Linked DNA regions of Homo sapiens: region 2 is linked to region 1. Evidence: fine-mapped expression QTL. Tissue or cell type: lung. Region 1 holds a variant in brackets; the other region holds the start of a gene. All regions are shown on one strand. Distances are from middle to middle.

Region 1 (10,455 bases):
CTTGAGAAGGCCCTATTGAGCCTCCTGCCAGGAAATTTGCTGGGTGGGGAGTGGGGTGTGCAGTCAGCTGGTGCCGAGCGCTCATGCTAAAGGCATTCAGTGTCTTCCTTTGGTTAGTGAGTTTCAACCTTGTGACTCCCCTGCTGCTCCTTCCTCAAGGGAGGGACCATGTCAGCCCATTCAGTGACAGGCTGCTATGACAGGAGAGTATTTTGTTCCACAGACACCAATGAGTGCAGCATCAACAACGGAGGCTGTCAGCAGGTCTGTGTGAACACAGTGGGCAGCTATGAATGCCAGTGCCACCCTGGGTACAAGCTCCACTGGAATAAAAAAGACTGTGTGGGTAAGGGGAACCGAGGCACAGACTCAGACAGCAGGCTGGCCACTGGCCCAGAGGCAGTGCAGCTCTGCGTGCTCCCACATCCCACCTGACCGTCCCTCCACTGACTTCCCCACCAGCTGCAGCAACTGTTCTTTAAATAGTTCAAAAACAGGAGATACTTTGCCGGATCTTTGGTGTTTCCTTCTGTGCTTCTGTGTAGGTTGGAACTCACTTCTGTTTTCCTGGTTGCTTTTCTGCATGAAGAAATGGCATATCAGGGGCTCCTTTCCCTTGGTGGGAATAAGGCCTAGCATCTATGTTCTGTGCTGGGCATGAGCTCTACCTTCTTTTCTTGGGGCCTTTGGTGCATGGGACTCAACCATCCTTGTCACACTTGGAAATGTCCTTCTCTTTCTGTAAGTGTCTGTTTTGTCCTGTCTAGAAGTGAAGGGGCTCCTGCCCACAAGTGTGTCACCCCGTGTGTCCCTGCACTGCGGTAAGAGTGGTGGAGGAGACGGGTGCTTCCTCAGATGTCACTCTGGCATTCACCTCTCTTCAGGTGAGTGGGGCCCAGTTCCCGGGGCAGGTCCTCACACTGGGGCCAGGCCTCTCTGGCCTCCAGGTGTTAGATTCCCTCAAAGGGCTTCCAGGTCCTCCGCCAGATGCCCCGACCACCGTGCTTTGAGAGGTCCATGCTTCGAGACCCCATATGCTGGGCATTTTTCTAGTGGCCCATGTGGAGTGGGGTGGGGGGACAGTTTAGCTGCTACCAGGATAGCCTGTGACCTTGCTTATGCATTTGACAATTGACATTCTGTCTGTCAGGACTGCAAGGGGCCTACTCTGTCACCTGTGGCTCTTCCTCTCCTCTCAGGAACAAACAACAAAAATCAAATGACTCTGCTTTTGGGGGTAATTACCAAATCTGCGTGTTCTCTCTGGGGGCTCACTGTGTTCAAGGGGCTTCATTCACGGGGTGCTGTTCTTGGACATTGGCTTTGTTTTTTTTCTGTTAATTTCCTTGATGCTGTGAGCATGTTCCAGGGTGTTGTTGCCTGCAGTCCTGGTGCCCGGAATGTGACTCTCCCATGTAACAGATACTTACTGTGTGGCCACTGTGTGTCAGGAGGCTGTGGTCAGCCCTGGTGGGTCATCACCCTGGGCAGAGGCCCACAGAACCCCAGGACCAGCAGGCTGTACTCCAGAGCACCTCAAAGGCCCAGGGAATGTGCCTGGAGCACATGGTGTGGATAGAAATAGGCAAAGCAGGGGCAGCAGGGATTCTGTGCCGAGAAAGGGGCCCAAACCCTTTCCTGTTTGTCAAAAGATGAAGAATGAAATCCAAGGTTTTTAGGAGGCTGTGTCCTCCCGGATATAGACGCCTTTGTCATTATGTCATTGGAACACCTGAATGAGGTTCATATTACATCCTGATGTTCATATTACATATATGAGCAAAGCTAGAGACTCAAAGCAAGACAGTACAGCTTGTATGTGTTGACTGAGCAATTCAAATATGCCAGCTACCATAGTACACGAATTAACTGACTTAAGCCATACTACAACCCTCTGAGGAAATTTTACTATTATTCTCATTAACCAGATGAAGAAACTGAGGCTCAGAGAGGTGAAATAACTTACTCAAAGTGGTTTAGATAAGAAATAGGGGAGCTGGGATTTGAACCCAGGCAGTCTGGGTCCAGAGTCTCAAGCACTATCCTTCACTGCCCCTTTCAATGCACGTTTGGACTCAGCCAGGGCATACATCATGGTCTGTTTCGCCAAATCCCTCAGTGACAGTTCCTTGGTGATTTGGGCCACCCCAAGGTGGGGCAAGCAAATAGCTAATGGCTATGCAGTTATTACTACGTACCAGGCAAGGAGCTAAACATTTTCCTTTTTTTAAATGCATTATCTCATTTTATCCTTACAACAGCCTGGTAATATAGGTACTATAATTATGCCTGTTTTACAGATGAGGACACTGAAGCTTAGGGAGATTAAGTAACTTGCTCAAGTTCTCACCACAACTTAAAAGAGCTGTAGGGCATTGACTCCAGATCCTACCGGATGGTTAAGACTGACTGACCCTGGGAGGAGAACAGAATTTTGCACATCAGGCTCTCACAGTGGGACCCTCACTCCCTCTCAGACCTCAGAGCCTAGCCATGTTTAGTGAGTGCCATCTGTGTCTGGAACAACAGCTCCCTCAGCCCTGTCCTCCCACGACGGGCTTGTTTAGGAGAATCTGCCCTTCACCGTTTCGCCAAACGGGCTTATCCAGATTTGAACTGGGGGATTCTGGCCTTTTTTTCTCAGGAAGGCACAAAAATGACTTCATGTTCTATTTCACCGTGGAGGCTATTTTTGACCCTCAGTTTTAGATAGATAGATAGGTAGATAGATAGATAGATAGATAGGTAGGTAGGTAGATAGATAGATAGATAGATAGATAGATAGATAGATAGATAGATAATTTTTTGTTTTTTTTGAAATGGAGTCTCATTCACTCTGTTGCCTAGGCTAGAGTGCAGTGGTGCAATCTCAGCTCACTGCAACCTCTGCCTCCTGGGTTCAAGCAATTCTCCTGCCTCAGCCTCCCGAGTAGCTGGGATTACAGGCATGTGCCACCATGCCCGGCTAATTTTTGTATTTTTAGTAGAGATGGGGTTTCACCATGTTCGCCAGGCTGGCCTCTGTTTTATTTGAACACTGGATTTGCCTCTCACATGAGGGGGTAACTGCAATTTTAGGAGGCTCCTGGTGGCCCCAGTCCAGGGCAATGGGCACTCCATGATCCAAGCCACTCTTAGCCTCAGGGTAGGAGAGGGTCTCAGGGTGTGCTGTGTGTGGTGGAAGCCACCAATGGACAGCTTGCTGCTTCCCATCTGGTGTCTCCATTCCTTTGCCTCTGAAGGTAACATCTCTCACTTGTTTCTTTCTGAAGATGTCACCACCATCAGGACAAGTGTAACCTTTAAGCTAAATGAAGGCAAGTGTAGTTTGAAAAATGCTGAGCTGTTTCCCGAGGGTCTGCGACCAGCACTACCAGGTATGGAATCAGGTGGTTGGTGTAGGGAGCTTGCCTGCATGTGGGAAGGGGCCTGCAGCCAGCCGAGCTGGAGGTCCATGGGGGCCAGGGGCTGTCCAGCCGATCCAAGCACACTGCAGATGGAACTGAACCATCCCCAACTTCCAGGGACTCATCCCAAGAGGAAGAAGAGCATAACCTAGCATGCTTGTATAGTTCTGGGGTCACACTTCGGGGCTTCCTTTGCATGGTATAGTTGGTGAGGCTCTGGGGAAACCCACGAGTTCACAGAAGTCAATAAGGGCTTCAGATGAATTAGCAATTTGTGATCATATTGGGTTAAATTTTCTAGATCTCAGATTTTGCTTGAAATATAAGCCAAAGAAATGAAAAAAGGTTTGGCTCAGAAAGGATAACTTTGATGAACAAAGATCTAATATCCAGCCTTCCTGCTGGGTCTAGTTTTTGGAAGCGGTGACCCCATTGGCTTCAGCAAAGCAAATACCATCCAAGTAGAACTGGCCTTATTGAGAAGAGCAGAATCTAACATTCCTTTTTCTTTCCCAGCACACATTTCCAGTATTATTTTATAGAATTCTTTTGGAAATTAAAAATAAAAAGGATCAGGATTCATGTATTAGGGAGGCTTCTTTTCCCAATCTACTCTCAAATCACACAGACAAATAAACCTAAAGCTCACTCTAGTCACTTTTGACTGCCTATTTTAGGTAAGTATTTTTAAGAAACTTGGTACCTCCATTTGATGGAATATTATGCAGCTATTAATTCTATGTTTTCAAAGAATGTTTAATGACACAGGAAAATGGTCTTGTTATAATGCTGAGATGTAAAGCAGGAGAGAAACATTTTGTATATCTAATACAATCCAAATTGTGTAAGAAAAACTGTGGTAGAAGAAACAAAAAGAAAACTCACCCTATCATTAGTAGTGGTTACATCTGGGTGGGAGGCATGGGTAATTTTAATTTTTTTTCTGCATTTGCCAAATTAACCATAGTGAGCATTTATACTTTTAAACCTCAGGGGTGAAGGGAGGGGCCATTGCTTAAAAATAGATTTGAACCAGTTGTGGTGCCTCATACCTGTAATCTCAGCACTTTGGGAGGCCAAGGCAGGCAGATTGCTTGAGTTCAGGAGTTCAGGAGCGGCCTGGGTAACATGACAAAACCCCATCTCTACAAAAACTATAAAAAAATTAGCCGGGCCTAGTGGTTTGTGCCTGTAGTCCCAGCTACTCAGGAGGCCAAGGCGGGCGGATCACTTGAGCCCAGGAGGTTGAGGCTGCAGTGAGCTGTGTTGACACCACTGCACTCCAGCCTGGGCGACAGAGCGAGACCCTGTCTCAAAAAAATGAAATAAATACAATGATAAAAATAGACTTGGCCTATAGTTTACTTAATGGGATTGTACTAGTGTTAATGTCTTAGTTTTGATAAATGTATGATGTTAACGTTAGGGGAGACTGAGTGAAGGTTATGTGGGAACTCTATACTATCTTAGCAACTTTTCTATAAATCTACTTATTTCAAAATGAAAAGTTAAAAAAATATATATGGAAACATCGAAAGGGAAAAAGATTTAAAATGAGAATCTGTTCAGTTTAAGATCTGAAGTTACCCTTTTGAAAAAGTAAGATAAATCTTTAGGGGAAAAATGTAGAGAAGAAATAAATCTGCCTCCTTCCTGTGGCCCCTGTTGACCTATGGCTTGAATGTCCTTGTAATGTTAAAGAAGAATCTGATACAGGCAATACTTCATTTCAATAAAGATTTTGAAATAGAGACAAATTCATGGAGTGGATGATATGTGGACCTGCTCTTTGGTGAGGGTTAACAGATTCACTGGAAACCATGGTGAGAGGGGAGACAGCCAAGTCAGGAAGAAGGATGTGCAAAGCCCTGTCATGCAACACTTCCACTCTCATCCTAGATGCCTTCATGATATTGTTAGGTTCTGTTGATGCTTTGTACCATTTATTGCTCCTGGTTATTTAAAAATGAGACATCACTGCTGACGGGTGTTCCAGCTTTCCTTTCAGGTTAGAATGACTCCAAGGTCAGTTTGCCTGAAAGCAGTAGTTGGTTTCCTTTCCACTCTTGTGCTCATTCCTTATTTGAAGCCTCAGCCCCTGCTCGGCACATCCAGCTTTATGCAAACCAACTGTGAGAGTGTAAGCACACGTTAGCAAACCGTCAGTAAGGAATGCAAGACAATCCCTGGTTCTTGTCTTCCACATATGTGGCTAGTCAGTCGGAAACATCTCCCATTTATTCATGAAAAGAATTTTCAAGAGCTAAATTGTAAAGTTATATAGGAGGCAATGCTAGCTCTTCAACATTAAAATGTCGTTGTGCTCCAAGTTAAGGGCTTGCAGTGTCTTGGCATCTGGAGATAA[T/A]CACTTAGTCCCTTGAGAGTTGTTTTAATGAAATGTTTACTGAGCTCTAGCAAATGTTCAGCTGAGTGCTTTGCCAGGATTTGGCTTCCGATAATTTTGTTTCTTCATACAGAGAAGCACAGCTCAGTAAAAGAGAGCTTCCGCTACGTAAACCTTACATGCAGCTCTGGCAAGCAAGTCCCAGGAGCCCCTGGCCGACCAAGCACCCCTAAGGAAATGTTTATCACTGTTGAGTTTGAGCTTGAAACTAACCAAAAGGAGGTGACAGGTTGGTTTGAAAACAGTCTGCATTGCCAGGCTTCTCACGGCTTGCTCCTTATTTCTTTGCCTTTCACTTTTTATTATTCTTGGGGGAAAAGTAATGCAAACACTGAAGTATCTCCTGTTTTTTTTCACCCCGAAACTAAACTGAATTGGTTTGGAACCTGATGGTTTTCTCTGCTTCATAAAAACCCAAAGCTACCATTCTGATCCACAAATTTCTGTTTGAATCAAATGCTGCCCAGCCTGCTAGGTGCCCCCTCCAGGTTTCTCCCCATTCGGTCCACAGGGAGCTCGGGGTGTTGGTAGGGCCTGCAGTTGATCTGGCCATTGTCACACGCTGCAGCCTGATCTCCTCCCGCACTGCTGTCCCTCTTGTTTCTGTAGCTTCTTGTGACCTGAGCTGCATCGTAAAGCGAACCGAGAAGCGGCTCCGTAAAGCCATCCGCACGCTCAGAAAGGCCGTCCACAGGGAGCAGTTTCACCTCCAGCTCTCAGGCATGAACCTCGACGTGGCTAAAAAGCCTCCCAGAACATCTGAACGCCAGGCAGAGTCCTGTGGAGTGGGCCAGGGTCATGCAGAAAACCAATGTGGTGAGTGGCCTGGGACATTCTTGCTAACAGAACAGCCTTGGGCTCCATAAACACTCAGGGTAACCGAAGGCAAGTCTGGCCCATCCTCCCTTCTCAGGGCTCACTTTAGAGAACACTCCGGGCAGTGCTTCTGTTTCAGTAACTGTTGCGTTTGTGTCTGTCGTCCCTGCTAGGCCCAGAGCTCCCCGGAGTGAGACTGACCTCATTCATCTCCCTGTCCTCAGCACCTGGCATAGTATCTGGCTTGTGGTGGGCACTAAAATGTTGGTTGACTTGAGGAACAGGAAAGAAGTGGCTGATGTTCTGATTCCAAAGCCTGTGCTCTGGTCCCAAGCAGGGTGAATTTCAGTAATTAGATTTCTCCAGGATAAACTGATGTCCTTTTCCTAAGTATCAGTAGAATCATGAGGCCCAAGCTTAGCTAAGGAGTAAGAATCCCATTTGTATTTCTAAGTAAGCAAAGCTGAATCCAGGGGCACTTGTTCCAGAGAATTGTCAGCCTTAGGCCCACAGCTCAAATTTGTTGCTTTGCCAAAACTTAGTGAAAATCAAGTGCAAAATCAAGTGTAACTGTCTACAAGAGGCTGGTTTCCAGATAGTCTTGATTTTCATTCCAGCTGATTCTCTTAAAAAGAAACAAAGTGGAAAAAAGTAAAAACAGCCCAGCTGGTTGATCTGTTCTCATTTAAAATTCTAAGAGTTCCAGTTTCCGTACTAAAATAGTGGGGAGAGTTGGCTGTGGCTGCCCTACTTTCCAGGATGAGTTGCAGAAACTGTCAGGGCCCTCCTGGCCTCTCAGGGTTACACTGCACCCCTCCCCCGTCTGCTATCCTGTTGGGGTTAGGCCTCACGGACGGGCCAGGGAGTCTTTGTGGCCAGTTAAAAAGTCAAGAAAACCTAATGTCAAGGGCCCCATGGACTGGCTCCCAGTGAGGGTATCACTAATACTACCATGGGTATGTTCCTGGGGAGTAAAGGCCCAAGGATAAGGAGCAGGAGTTACTTAACAGGGGCTTCATGACCACAACAGCCTACGAAAGACACTCGGGGCCAGGCATGATGGCTCACACCTATAATCCCAGCACTTTGGGAGGCCAAGGCGGGCAGATCACGAGGTCAGGAGATCGAGACCATCCTGGCCAGCATGGTGAAACCCCGCCTCTACTAAAAAAATACAAAAAATTAGCTGGGCGTGGTGGCGCGTGCCTATACTCCCAGCTATTCGGGAGGCTGAGGCAGGAGAATCCCTTGAACCAGGGAGTTGGAGGCTGCAGTGAGCCGAGATCGTGCCACTGCACTCCAGCCTGGGCGACAGAGCAAGACTCCGTCTCAAAAAAAAAAAAAAAAAAAAAAAGAAAGAAAGACACTCAGTAGAGGGTTTGTGTAGCTGTGGTGGTGTGTGAATGTGTCCCTGAGATGCTTGTCATGCTAAATTAGGTTTGATTTGTTTCTAGGGGAGCCAATGTGTCTTGTCTCAGGAGCTCCCAAACACTGGATGAATTCTGTAGCCCTCACAGCATCAAATCAGGTCCAGGTCTGACAGCAATGTTGAAGATTTTACCATGCAGAGAAAACGGCTCAAGCAGTTACCAGTGACATTCCCTCTTGCTGCTGAGGGAGGAAGTGGGTGTAAAGAAGTGTCAGGTGTGTTAATTAGAAAGGCTTTTTATCCAGAAGGCAGCATGTGGCATAGACAAGGCTGTGTGTGTGTGTGTGTGTGTGTGTGTGTGTGTGTGTGTGTGTGTCTGTCTGTCTGTCTTCTAGTCCTGGTCTATTTGATGGTGTTAGGACTTCATAAAGACCAGGCTTGCTGATGTTTTCTGAGCTCTGGATGGTACAGTGGAGACAAGCTTAGGATAGTTCCTTTTAGAAATGATTTTCGGTATTTGCAGAAAAGAGCTCAAAAAAAGAAAAATGGAGTCACTTCCATCTCTCCTGGGGGGAGAGATGGAACCATTATGTTTATCTTTTTAAATATTTTAAATTTAGTTTTCAATTATGAAAGTAGTGCCTGTTTCAAATGGCACAGAAATGTATACAGTAAAGATGAAAGTTCTCTCCACAGCTCCCTAATCCAACTCCCCAGCAGTAATCACTGTTATAGTTTGCTGTGTGATTTTTCCACAACTGTTTTTATGCACATATAAAAAGGAAATTTTATATAGTCATTCAATAAATATTTATTGAGCACCAATTGTGTGCCAGGTACCATTCTAGATATCAGGAATCCAGCAATAAAGAAACACGCAAACATCTCAGCCCTCACAGAGTTTACAATTTTAGAGGAAGAAGGTAGACAACCAACCAATAAACGAGGAAAGATACTACTATCATGTAGCAGAGGGCGACAGGGATATGGAGAGCAGGGCTGCAGGGAAGTGGAATGGAAAGTGCCAGGCCAAGGTGAGGGGTGAGGGATGAGGAGCGTACTCCCCCAAAGTGCAGACTGTGGTCAGGGAAGGCCTCATTACAAAGTGTCATTTGGGCAGAGACGCAAAGGACAGCAAGAAGCAAGCTATGGAGATATCTGGGGGAAGAGAGTTTCAGGCAAAGAGAACAACAAATAGGAAAACCCCAAGGTACTGGAAGGAAGGCCAGAAGGATGAGAGCTGAGAGAGGCAGGGAGGGAGAGCAAGGGCAGAGCAGTAGCAGAGGGAACTCGAAACCAGGGAGGACCCTGATCCCGAATCTGATGAGAAAGGAAGCCAGTGGAGGGCTTTGAGCATAGGAGTAACTGACATGTTTTCAAAAGATAACTTTGGCTACTGTGTTGAAAGTAGACTGTAGGTTTACGTATGAATAGATATATCTTTTTAAAAAAATAGGCTGGGTGCAGTGGCTCACATCTGTAATCCCAGCACTTTGGGAGGCCGAGGTGGGAGGATCACTTCAGGCCAGGAGTTCAATACTAGTTTGGGCAACATAGTGACACTCTGTCTCACTATGTTGGTTGGTAGCACCTGTAGTCCCAGCTACTCGGGAGTCTAAGGCGGGAGGATCATCTGAGTCCAGGAGTTCGAGGCTGCAGTGAGCTATGATTGTGTCACTGCACTGCAGCCTGGGTGGCAGACCAAGAGCCTATCTTAACAAAATAAAAAACAAATATCAATACAATTTGAATAGTGCTATGTGTTGTTTTTAACTGTAGTTAGATCAAGAACATCTCTCTAACATGATAGCGGAGCAACCTCATTTCTTTTACAGCTTCCCAGGCTGTATTTGTTTGAAGACACCAGTATTGATTAGCCCTACCCCTACTGGTGAACATAGAAGTTATTGCTAATTTTTATATGGCAAATAGTGCTCAATGAATATCATTCTTTGTACACATGGCCAATATTTCTGAAGGATAGACTTGCAAAAGTACAATGGCCGACTCAAAGAACTTGCATATTTAAAACTTTAATAGATACTGCCAAATTACTTTCCCAAAAGATCATGCCTATGCATGTCGCTTCCAACGTTGGAAGCATCCTACATCTTTGCTAACATGGATTATTTATCATTGATCCTTTTCATTTTTGCAAATCTGGTAAGCAAAAAAAAAAAAAAATAGTCATTTTAACTTGGTTTTCTTTATTAGTAAGACTAAGCATGCTGTCTTATGCCTGTGGTCATTTGGATTCCTTCTTCTGAAAACATCTATATTCTTTGCCTATTTTTGCATTGAACTGTTTGTCCTTTGTATAGCATTAAAAAATAAATTTTAAAGTCCCAATTTACACCAGAGAAAATAATCACTTCTGACCAATTGTATATTTTCTTTCTTATCATTATTTTATATAGTAAAGTTTCATTAATTTGGCATTTGGGGACTTTGGGGACAGC
Region 2 (10,050 bases), 45 kb after region 1:
GGAGAGGGGAAGGAAAGAGGAACAGGACATATTTATTGAGAGCCCACTTTGTGCCTTTATATATTATTTCACTCAAATGAGACAGAACCCTGCAAGATGGATAAACTGAGGCTCAGAGAGCTTCAGTAACTTGGCCAAGGTCCCATAGCAAGCAAGGGGTGGAACCAGATTCAAAGCTAAGCCTAGACTCCTCACTTCCCCACTTCCACCAGACACACGTCCTTCAGATACTGGTGTTTGTTTTCTTTCCATTATTTCTCCTCTTTTGCTGTCTGAGTTGAGGTCAAAGCCTGTTCTCATCCCGGGAAATGAAACCAAATCACTGGTGACTGTAATGGATCCAAAAGACCCAGGCAACTTTGGAAAACACCAGCAGGGCTGCCATCAGCCCTGTTTCTTGAGGTCATGGTGATGTTGGCAATCACTCTGAAGGAAGAGGACAGAAATATCTCTTATCTTTGCTTTAACTGCCAAAGCAGACACAGTTTTTAGAGCTGGGTGCCAAGTCAGGGGTACCATGTAGCCAGAGATCCTGGCACACATCTGGATAGCTGTTCGAAGAATCTTCCTGCCAAAGGGGGTTGGGGTAGTGGTGAGGACATCTGAGGAGGAAAGGGATCCTACAGCTATAAGGATGGGGTGGTGCATGATGAGGGTCCTAGGAGTGGCCATTCTGACTTCAGGGTATGGCCAAGGGCAATATGCATGGGTAGGGAGGGAATGGGGAGGAAAATTTCTTGGCAGTCTCCCCTTTATCCTCTGCTCTTCTCCTCTACTTTTTAGGCCTCCAAGCCTCAGCACTCATCCTGTTTCTCATTCTTAAAGGCCTCTCTGTTAGCTGAAGACCCAAAAGAGGGTTGCTAGGAGAATAGGTTGTAAGCCTAGAGTCACAAATAGCCATCAGACAGGAAGGGTCTGCCTACAGGGGCATCAGCTCAGAGGAAAGCAGAGCTGAAACACAGTGATAATGTCATTTGAGTCTTTGGATCCAGCCATGCCTGAAGCCCTGCACTTTTAAATTAAGGGGACCAAAAATTTGCATTTTCACATAAGAAATTTTCAACTGGGTATCTGTCACTTATAAGAAGAATAACGTGAATAGCATTCTAACACTGAAACAGTACTGGATTTTCTAGTATGATTTTCAAGTACAGGTCTTCTATAACAGCCAAGGGAGGATGCAGAGAACTTTAGGATAGAGCCATTGCACATGGAAAGTCCAGAATCTGGAGACACTGAGGAGAGGAAGAGAGCTGGCCAGCCCCTGCCTCAGCAGGCCTCTGCTCTAGGGATAGGGTAAGATACTCAAGTCTGGCTTCATGTCTGAAGCTCTGTAGGGAAGCCTGGAGAAAGGATAGGCCAGCCCCAATTCGAGGGTTCTGCAACCTACAGTTTTTCCTGAAGTTGTTCCAGGTAATGATGGTTGCTACCTTCTGCTGAGCCTATGCTACATGACCAATGTATTACACTGTCTATCGTTTTATTTCTCACAGCAGCCCTGAGAAGTAGAGATATTGGCACAATTTTCTAGATGAAGAACTGAAAGCTCACAATGGTGCAGTAACTAACTAGTCACATAGCTAGTAAGCAGCAGAGCAGGGATTCAAATCTAGTGTATTAGACTCCAAAACCTGTGTTTTTAACAACCATATTGTATGTTACTTCCTCCAAGATGGGTCAATGAGGCAGGGGACGTTGATTGGCTATATGGAGAATTAATAATAATCTTTTCTGTTGGTACAGCCCTAGAGAGTTTACAAAGCACAATTGTATATGCAGTCTCACTACATCCATTTTACAGATATGGAAACTGAGGCTCAGAGGTAGGAAGTGATTTACTCAAAGTCATTTGGGCAAACAGGATAAACCACCCAGAGATAACTCTCCTTAAATTAAGCAGGCAGTCTGTAGTCTGCGAATACTCATAATGTGTGGGGGGAGGAAGGAGCTGGCCTCACCACACTGAACCTTGAGGGCAGTGATGGTATCAGTCTGTCCAAGGAAGGTCTCAGACAGGTGAGGGGACCAACAGGTATTGCAGCCACAGACCCAACTGCAGAACACAAATCCCACTACACCAAAGGGCTCTGAATTCACAAAAAGATTCCCAGTTCCAGTCGGGCACCATTTATTTTTCAGCAACACTTGATATGGGCAAATTCCAGTTCAACTAGAGAGATTCAGCTTCCTGGTGTTCCCAGGGGGATCTAGCTCTGAAAAGAGCCCCTTTCTTCTGTCAGGACATCCTCAGCAAAAAAGGCTGCAGGTCTGAGCTGAGCAGCCTGGAGAGTGGGGATTCCAACTCCCCCCGAGAGTGTCTACCTGCCTGGCTTCCTCCCTGAGGAAAGTCACTGTCCCAGCCCAAGCCCTAGGGGCCCTCACTGTTGGACCTGCCCTGATGCTTTGCCAAACTCAGAGGCACCTCTCCTAGACGGACAAGGCAAAGCTGACTTTCACTGTTCCCTGGGTGATCTGCACCTGGAGGAGTGATCAGGCAGGGATCCAGGTGATGGGACAGAAGGGGCCAGGGCAGCCACTGTTGTTCACTGCTGGAAGTGTGCCAGGGGACTGGAAGGTGAACAGCAATCCCACCTGTCTCCTAGAGACTCTGTCCTCCGTGTGTAGGGGAAAGTAGGGGATGGGCACACAGGGAGGAATCCAGCCCTGGGGCTTCCTTGAAGCCAAGTGAGCAGCCTTCTGTATTTGTTTTCCCACAAACAGTCTTTGAAACTGGGGCAAGTGTTGAAGGCAGAACAGAGTAAAAGAAGCAGCTTCATGAGGCCAAACCCAGTCTCTCCAGGTCTAGGTAGTCCAGCACAGGTTCTGGGAGTAAATGCCAGCTTTACCACTTGATTTCTTTGGTACGACCTTAACTTTTTGCCATCCTTTCACTAGTATTTGAGAACCCTCTGCATATTAGGGCATCAATGCTAAGCAAAAAATGGGTTCAGTCACCTTCCTGGAGGTTCCAATCAGTGGAGGAGACAAATATTAATCCAACAACCAGTACCCCCCTACCCCTACCCCCACAGAAAGTGTCAAATGCCCAAGAGATAGATAGTATATAATTAGAGAGACTTCACTCTCTCTGGAAGGTCAGAGAAGGCTTTCCTAAAGAAATGATAATGGAGCTGAGGTCTGGAAGAAGCATAGGAGTTTCCTGAAGAGGGTAGGAGGGGGCACTGCACACAGAGGGAACAGGACAGTCAAAGGCAGGCCATTTGGCAACAGGTGACTGGAAGGAACTGGAAGAAGGCCCATGAGGCTGAAGTACAGAGTGAATATGCAGGGTCTAGGCAGACCATGCAAGAATGTGGGTTTCTCCTAAGAGCAATAGGAAGCCTTTTGAGGTGCTCTTAGCAGGGAAGTGAGATGATCACACTTATCGTTTGAGAAGATTACTCTGGCAGCACAGTGAACAACGTATTGGAATGGAACCAAGGAGCATTCAGGAGGCCAGACAGAAGGTATCAGGTATTTGCCTGTAAAATGGGGGTGATGAGAATACTATCTTACAAGCTGTTGCCAGGATCCAATGAGATACTGCATTTTAAGTGTCTAGTCTAGTACCTGGCACATAGTAAAGGCTCAGTAAGCGTCGATATTGTTACTTTTATCATTGGTTCTTTGCAGAGTGCACATATTTCTTATCCAGGTCTGCTCCTGCGTGATGGGGTGGAGGGAGTAGTTGTGGTTTCCAGAGTGAAAACGTGATTTGTGTCAAATCACAATGTCGAGACCAGAATCCAGGATGCCTGAAGGCCCGATTAGAATGGCTTAAAAGTATGGATTATTCAGGAAGAAAAACGGGTTCCAATCGCTCCTACTAAGGACGCTGGAGGGATGGTGAACGATCCTTTAGATGGTAAGCCCTAGCACTTATTGAGAAAAACAGGTGCTTCTTTGGTCGGAGAGCAGGTGTAGGGCTCGCAGCCGCGTGCGCTCCCGCGGAGGCGGGGGACCCTCGCCACTCCCCCGCCCCACGCCCACCCGCGGGCTTCCGACTGCACCTGCTCCCCCGGCTCGGAAACGCGGGCCGGGTGCCGGGCTGCAGGCAGAGGGTGCCCGGGGGAGGAGGTCCCGAAAGCCTCCTCCACACGCCTGCACCGGCTGCCCCCTCCCCAGTCACGTGGCCCGGTGGGTGGGGACCGACCTGAAGTTGGAGAAATCCGGAGCGCTCCCAACCTCGGAGGGAGTCGCCAGTCCTCCGGGCCCGGGCGGTGGACCCTGGAGCCCCGGCTGGCGGCGTGGAGGTGCGTTTCTGAGAAGCCGAGCAGCGGCGCGGGCGGCGGGACTCGAGGCATGGCCCGGCTGTCGGTGATCCCCGGGTCGGCCACGGCGTGGACAGGTGAGCAGGTACCCGCGGCCAGCGGCAGAGATGGCCGGGGCTGCCAGGGCATCGGGCCCCAGAGCCCACGCCAGTCCAGGGGATGCGGGGCCCCCACGCAGGAGGGGGCGGTTGGGTGAAAAGGCCGCGGTGGATTCTCGGACTGCCGGGTCAGTCCCCACCAGCGCCGCCGCCTCCTCGCCGGCTTTGCCACCGGGTGAGCAGGGGACGCGGGACGCGGGACGCGGGACGCGAGGGAGCCGCGCGGGGCGTGGACTCTGTGCCGGCCCCGCCCCCCGCGCGCGCACTGGCTGCTCCCCGCGACGTCACGCTCGGCTATAAAAGGCGCGGCTCGGGGCCCTTGCGGCGCTGGAGGAGCTCGAGGCTGAGGCTGCCGGGGGGCTGTGGGCTACCGGGCCGCCGGCGCCTCAGCGATGTTTTACTCAGGGCTCCTCACTGAGGGCGGCCGCAAGGAGACCGACATGCGGGAGGCGGCGTCACTGCGACAGCAGCGCCGGATGAAGCAGGCGGTGCAGTTCATCCACAAGGACTCCGCCGACCTGCTGCCCCTGGACGGCCTCAAGAAGCTGGGCTCGTCCAAGGACATGGTGAGCCCCCGCCGCCGTTCTCGCCCCGGCCCCGGCGGCTTCGCGCCCGCCGTTTTCCGAGGCCCGGCCGTTGCGGCTTTCACTGAGTCACGGCCCGGCCCGCCGCTGCCCTTGGCTCGCGGTCGCTGCGTCGCGGATTCCTCCCCTTCCAGTACCCCTGCTGCGGTTTCGGTGGGGATTCCGTCGTAGCTTTTCTAGCTTGCGCTCCCCTCGGCTGTGCCTCCTCCCTGGATGTCTCTTCTCCAGTAGAAAGAAGAGGTCCTGCCCTGCCCTCTTGCCCTCGGGTCTTCTTTCTTTTTCCTTATTCTTAATACCGAATTTTGTTCACGGGGCTTGTGCCTCCTATGCTGTGTGGCTGTTCCTATGACCCAGACAGAGGTGATTCCTAATGGCTTTCCGTGAGGGGGAAAGAAGTGGAAAGAGGGTTTTTTGACAGTTGCCAGATCCAGAGGACTTCTGTTGAATCCATTGTCCCCCTATGCAAAACCCACTTCTCTAGTTTTGGTCCTAACTTTGACCTTCCATCCTGAGTGGGGAGAGAGAAAAGGGGCCAAATGTGAAGGTTTCCTGAACCCCCAACATCTCTTCATCATTCTCCTCTTCCAGCCCCGCCCCCAAGGAGTGGGTAGAGGGAGGAAGCCAGGCTGCTGCATCTCACCGACCAGCTAATGTGTGCATCTGGAGCTGGGGTGGGTGCAGTCTTTTTTTCTAGCACAGTTGTTCCTGGCATTAAGTAGAAGCACCTCAGGACAGGGGGCCTGGGGTCAAAGATGGTACTGTCCTCTTTCTATAGAATGGGATGGATGGCTAAGGGTTACCAATATAAAGAACTGTATTTGTCATCCCTCAGCCACTGTAGTGGTCCTGGGCCAAGTTTATGTTTAACTTTGTAGTTTTATCTGGAGTTTTCTTGTAGTTTGATTGTTTTCTTGAATTTCACAATCGCTTTATTCATTTGGGTGGTAATATGTGAAACACTAATTAAATGTCTTTTAACAAATGAAATAGGTGCTCTGCATAATTTTTCTAGTATTTTTTATTTTAAGCTTTTGAAATATTTAATTTTGGATGTGGTTGTCGGCCCTAGTTCACTGAAATTGCCATTTCTGGCCCCAGGAGGGCAGAGCTTCTGCATCCATTTCCTTTTTTTTTTTTTTTTTTTTTTAATTTAACAGCTCTAATGATACACAGGTACATTATATTATACACAGTATAATATAATATACAAAAATTTTTCTCCTCCCTGCCATTAGTTACTTCTGTGCAGAGTTTGTCTACTTCAGTTATCTTGCTCTGTTTTTTTTACAAGTTGTGTTTTTTTGTTTTGTTTTGCTTTTTGCACAACCCACAGGATAGTTTATCTGATTTATGCTAACCCAGAGTGATAAGTGATTGAAATGTGCTCCTGCAAAAGAGATAACTCTCTTTTCCCTTCTTTCACTTTAAAGCAATCTCGATTCATTTAACAAATCAGGTTCGAGAAGTATTCTTTCCTTCAGGCCAAATAATCCTATCCTAGTTCCTAGAATGCTCAGCAATCAATAAAGAAGGAAGTATTATATTAAGAGAAGAATTAAAATACAGAGTTTTTAAATGCTGGATTTGGTTGTCCCTCGTTGTCGAGGAGTTTCCTAGCCCTGAGAGCTACCTGAACTTCCTTCTGCCTAGGATTTCTTATACTACTTCATGCTGTGTAAGAATTCCATCCGCTTTTCTGACTCTAGTCTGTCTCAGTTGAGTCACAAAGGGCTGATAGCATACAGCACAGGCAGCAGGCTGCAAAGAGGAAGGAGCCTCAAGAAGCAGGATATTGCCTTGAGTATGACACATACACATGACAGTTGACTGTAAGGCTCTGAATCATGGTTCACGCTTTCTGTGCCCCACCGTCATGGAGTTGATTTCCCTCTCTCACTGTTTTCACACCTATAATGTACAAGTGATTGCACAGAACAGCCAGGTTACAGAAACCAAGGCAGACCGAGGTAGGGCTAGGAGAGCCGCAAGCGCTGGGGTGAGGCAGCATGCTTAAACTCTCTTGGAACTGTTGTTGCAGCCTTAGTACAATCTTAGAAGTGACCTTAGAAGTACATTATTATTCTTTTACTTTATAAATACATGTGGGATAGACCAGTGTTGACTCAATTTTCTCTCACTGCAAGGGAAATTTGGAGGATGTTAAAATTAATTGAATAGTTCTTACTTGGAGTAGTTTATAGTATAATCTCGATAGAAGGAGTCCAAGAAAAGGGAGAGGATAGCATCAGAGGGAGATAAGGAAGAGAGAGGAGAAATTAGTTGTTATTGACTTTTGGGTTTGTGAAGATTGTAGGTTGTTTTTCCTCATACCAGCAACCTATATTTGAATATACCGCTGGGATTTCTGAATTATCTACCTCTTACTATGCTGTTTCTGTAATGTTCACTGCTTGATACCAGCCTGCCAGCTCTTTTAGGACTGGCAGAAGGCAACCATAGGAAATCAAAGGGGGTCATGTTCTCTTGGCCCCAGGAAAGTGCCTTTGCCTATTCCTGTGTATCTGGAGTTGGCTGATACAAAGTCTTCTGTGGAAATTATATTTTTGTCTGCCCCTTTTGCTTTTATCCTTTTATCTTGTATTGTTCATTCTGTATTAGATTAAGAACTAAAACCAGAGATATGAGTGAGTAATATTATATTTGATTTTTTTTTTAAGAGACGGGTTCTCACTCTATTGCCCAGGCTGGAATGCAGCTGCAGTCACATCTTACTGCAGCCTCGACCTCGCAGGCTCAAGAGATCCTCCCACCTCAACCTCCTGAGTAGCTAGGATTACAGGTGCACACCACAACACCAATCTAACTTTTGTATTTTTTGTAGAGATGGGATTTTGCCATATTGCCCAGGCTGGTCTTGAACTCCTGGTCTCAAGCGATCTGCCCACTTTAGCCTCCCAAAGTGCTGGGATTACAAACATGAGCTACCACACCCAGCCCTGATTTTTTTTTTTAACTCAGTGAAGCTGGAGAAAAACATCTCCGTTCTTGGAAATTTGCCTATTGTAATTTATCTTGTTTTAGCTACCAGGTTCATAAAAGTTTTTCTCATTGTGCTAAGGACTTTTTAATTTTTAAAAACAGTCATGTTATGTGGTAATATGCTGTCTTTCCTAAATGATATTATACTTACCTGTAGGCATTAGGCCATATTCTTACTTGTCTGGCAATAGAGTTTTTCTTTCCTACATATGATTGCTTCTGATCATAGCTAAATGCTTTTTCAAAACTGACTAGAATTAGGAATGATGCTGGGGGAAAGATGGTTGAACACAGTAAAGCAAACTTACCATAAAATACCTGAACAGAATCTCTGTCTATTAGAGCAGGTCTGTGTGGTGTGCCCTATAGATTAGCTATCCATATCACCACAAATCATGGGCTGGAGAATTTCAGAGGCTTAGAAGAGAAGCGTGAAATACCAGTATAACACCAAGATCTGGCACAAACTGAAGATTTGCAGAGTCGTGATTGCATCCTCGTAATAGCAAACATTATTTGAATACTTGCTGTGTTCAGGACACAGTCTAGGGGCTAAGACACAAATAGGAAGACAGAAAAGTTTCTCATTATAAACAGGTTTATAGGTTGGGGGCAGGGAAGGACAGATCAGTTAATTTAATATACAAATATTTATTGAGTACCTACTACACATGTCATGCAATAATTTAAGCTTTGGAGATATAATAGTGAACCAAAACTGAGTTCCTGCCTTGACGGAACTTTCATTCTTGTGGGAGGAAGGAGGCAGAAAGTAAAATTAAGTAAATGTATATAAGGTAATAATAATAAATATTTTCTATGGAGAAAATAAATCAGGGTAAGGGGAATAGGGAAGGCAGTGACTGGGGTGGGGTGGAGTCTGGCTATTTTGTACAGGGTTGTCCGGCAAGGCCTATCTGATAAGATTACATTTGAGGAGATACTGAAGGGAATTAAGGAGCAAAGTTTCTCAGGGAAGAGTGTTCTAGGCAGAAGGAACAGCAAGTGCAAAGGACTGAGGTGTCACTGTGCTTGATATAACTGAAGAACTGTAAGAGGACCAGTGTAGCTAGATCAAAATGAGCAAGGGGGAGGGTGATAGAAGATAACATCAGAGATGTAGTAGGAGGCCATTGTGCAGGCATTTGGGTGGTTTTTTAAAATTATTATTTTTTTTATTTTCCACTCTTTTCAGCGCATACCTATGCATTTGGGTTTTAACCTGAGATTGGAAACGAGTGGAATATTTTGAGCAGAGGGGTGATATGATACATACGACTTATTTTACAAAAAGACTACTCAGGCTACTATGTGGGTTACACTGTAAAGGGGCAAGAGTAGATGAAGCAGGAAGACTGATTAGGAAGCTATTATACAGTAATTGAAGTGAGAGTTGATGGTACCTCAGAGCAGTGTGATAAGCTGTGAAGGAGAGGAGGAAGGATCAGGTTCTGGATATATGTTGAAGGCAGAGCTGACAAATGTAATTGATGCATTGGATTAAGAGTGAAAGAGTAATCAAGGAAGACCATGAGGTTTTTAACTTAGCCATTGGAAGAACAGAATTATCACTTGCTGAAGTGGATAAGACTTGCAGCGGGGAGCAGGTTGAGGATGGCAAATAAGAATGAAGAGTTTGCGGGCTGGGCGCGCTGGCTCATGCCTGTAATCCCAGCAGTTTGGGAGGCCGAGGCGGGCAGGTCACGAGGTTAGGAGATCAAGACCATCCTGGCAAACACGGTGAAACCCCATCTCTACTAAAAAATACAAAAAATTAGCCAGGCCTGGTGGCGGGCACCTGTAGTCCCAGCTACTCGGGAAACTCGGGAGGCTGAGGCAGGAGAATGGTGTGAACCCAGGAGGCGGAGCTTGCAGTGAGCCGAGATCGTGCCAATGCACTCCAGCCTGGACGACAGAGCGAGACTCTGTCTCAAAAAAAAAAAAAAAAAAAAAAAAAAATGAAGAGTTTGATTTTTGAACAAGTTTAGGGTCCCAATTAGTTACTTAAATGTAGATGCTGAATAGACAATTCTAGAAGAAGATAAGTAACACCACCAGAAAGCCTGTGCTAGTTGCCAAGATGTAATAGTCAGATGT

What was found. PIP is the estimated chance that this variant, and not a neighbour inherited with it, causes the effect.
Region 2: NRIP3 starts here. The variant in region 1 is fine-mapped to the expression of NRIP3 in lung (TOPMed, PIP above 0.99).

What each region holds. Positions count from the first base shown.
Region 1 is chr11:9,043,528-9,053,982 of GRCh38, reverse strand. SCUBE2 (signal peptide, CUB domain and EGF like domain containing 2) reads left to right here. Exons shown (of 23, transcript NM_001367977.2): 11 at 224-346; 12 at 768-884; 13 at 1,151-1,237; 14 at 3,273-3,377; 15 at 5,885-6,040; 16 at 6,421-6,627. All of the region lies in intron 1 of NRIP3-DT (NRIP3 divergent transcript), which reads right to left. Among named protein-coding and RNA genes, the nearest start is that of MIR5691, 42 kb to the left of the region's middle. RefSeq lists an enhancer at 6,444-6,945. The variant T/A (reference allele first, on the strand shown) is at 5,773.
Region 2 is chr11:8,998,647-9,008,696 of GRCh38, reverse strand. NRIP3 (nuclear receptor interacting protein 3) reads left to right here and starts at 4,696. Exons shown (of 7, transcript NM_020645.3): 1 at 4,696-4,935. The coding sequence starts at 4,762. NRIP3-DT (NRIP3 divergent transcript) reads right to left here and starts at 4,609. Exons shown (of 3, transcript NR_183663.1): 1 at 4,154-4,609. RefSeq lists an enhancer at 4,600-5,519.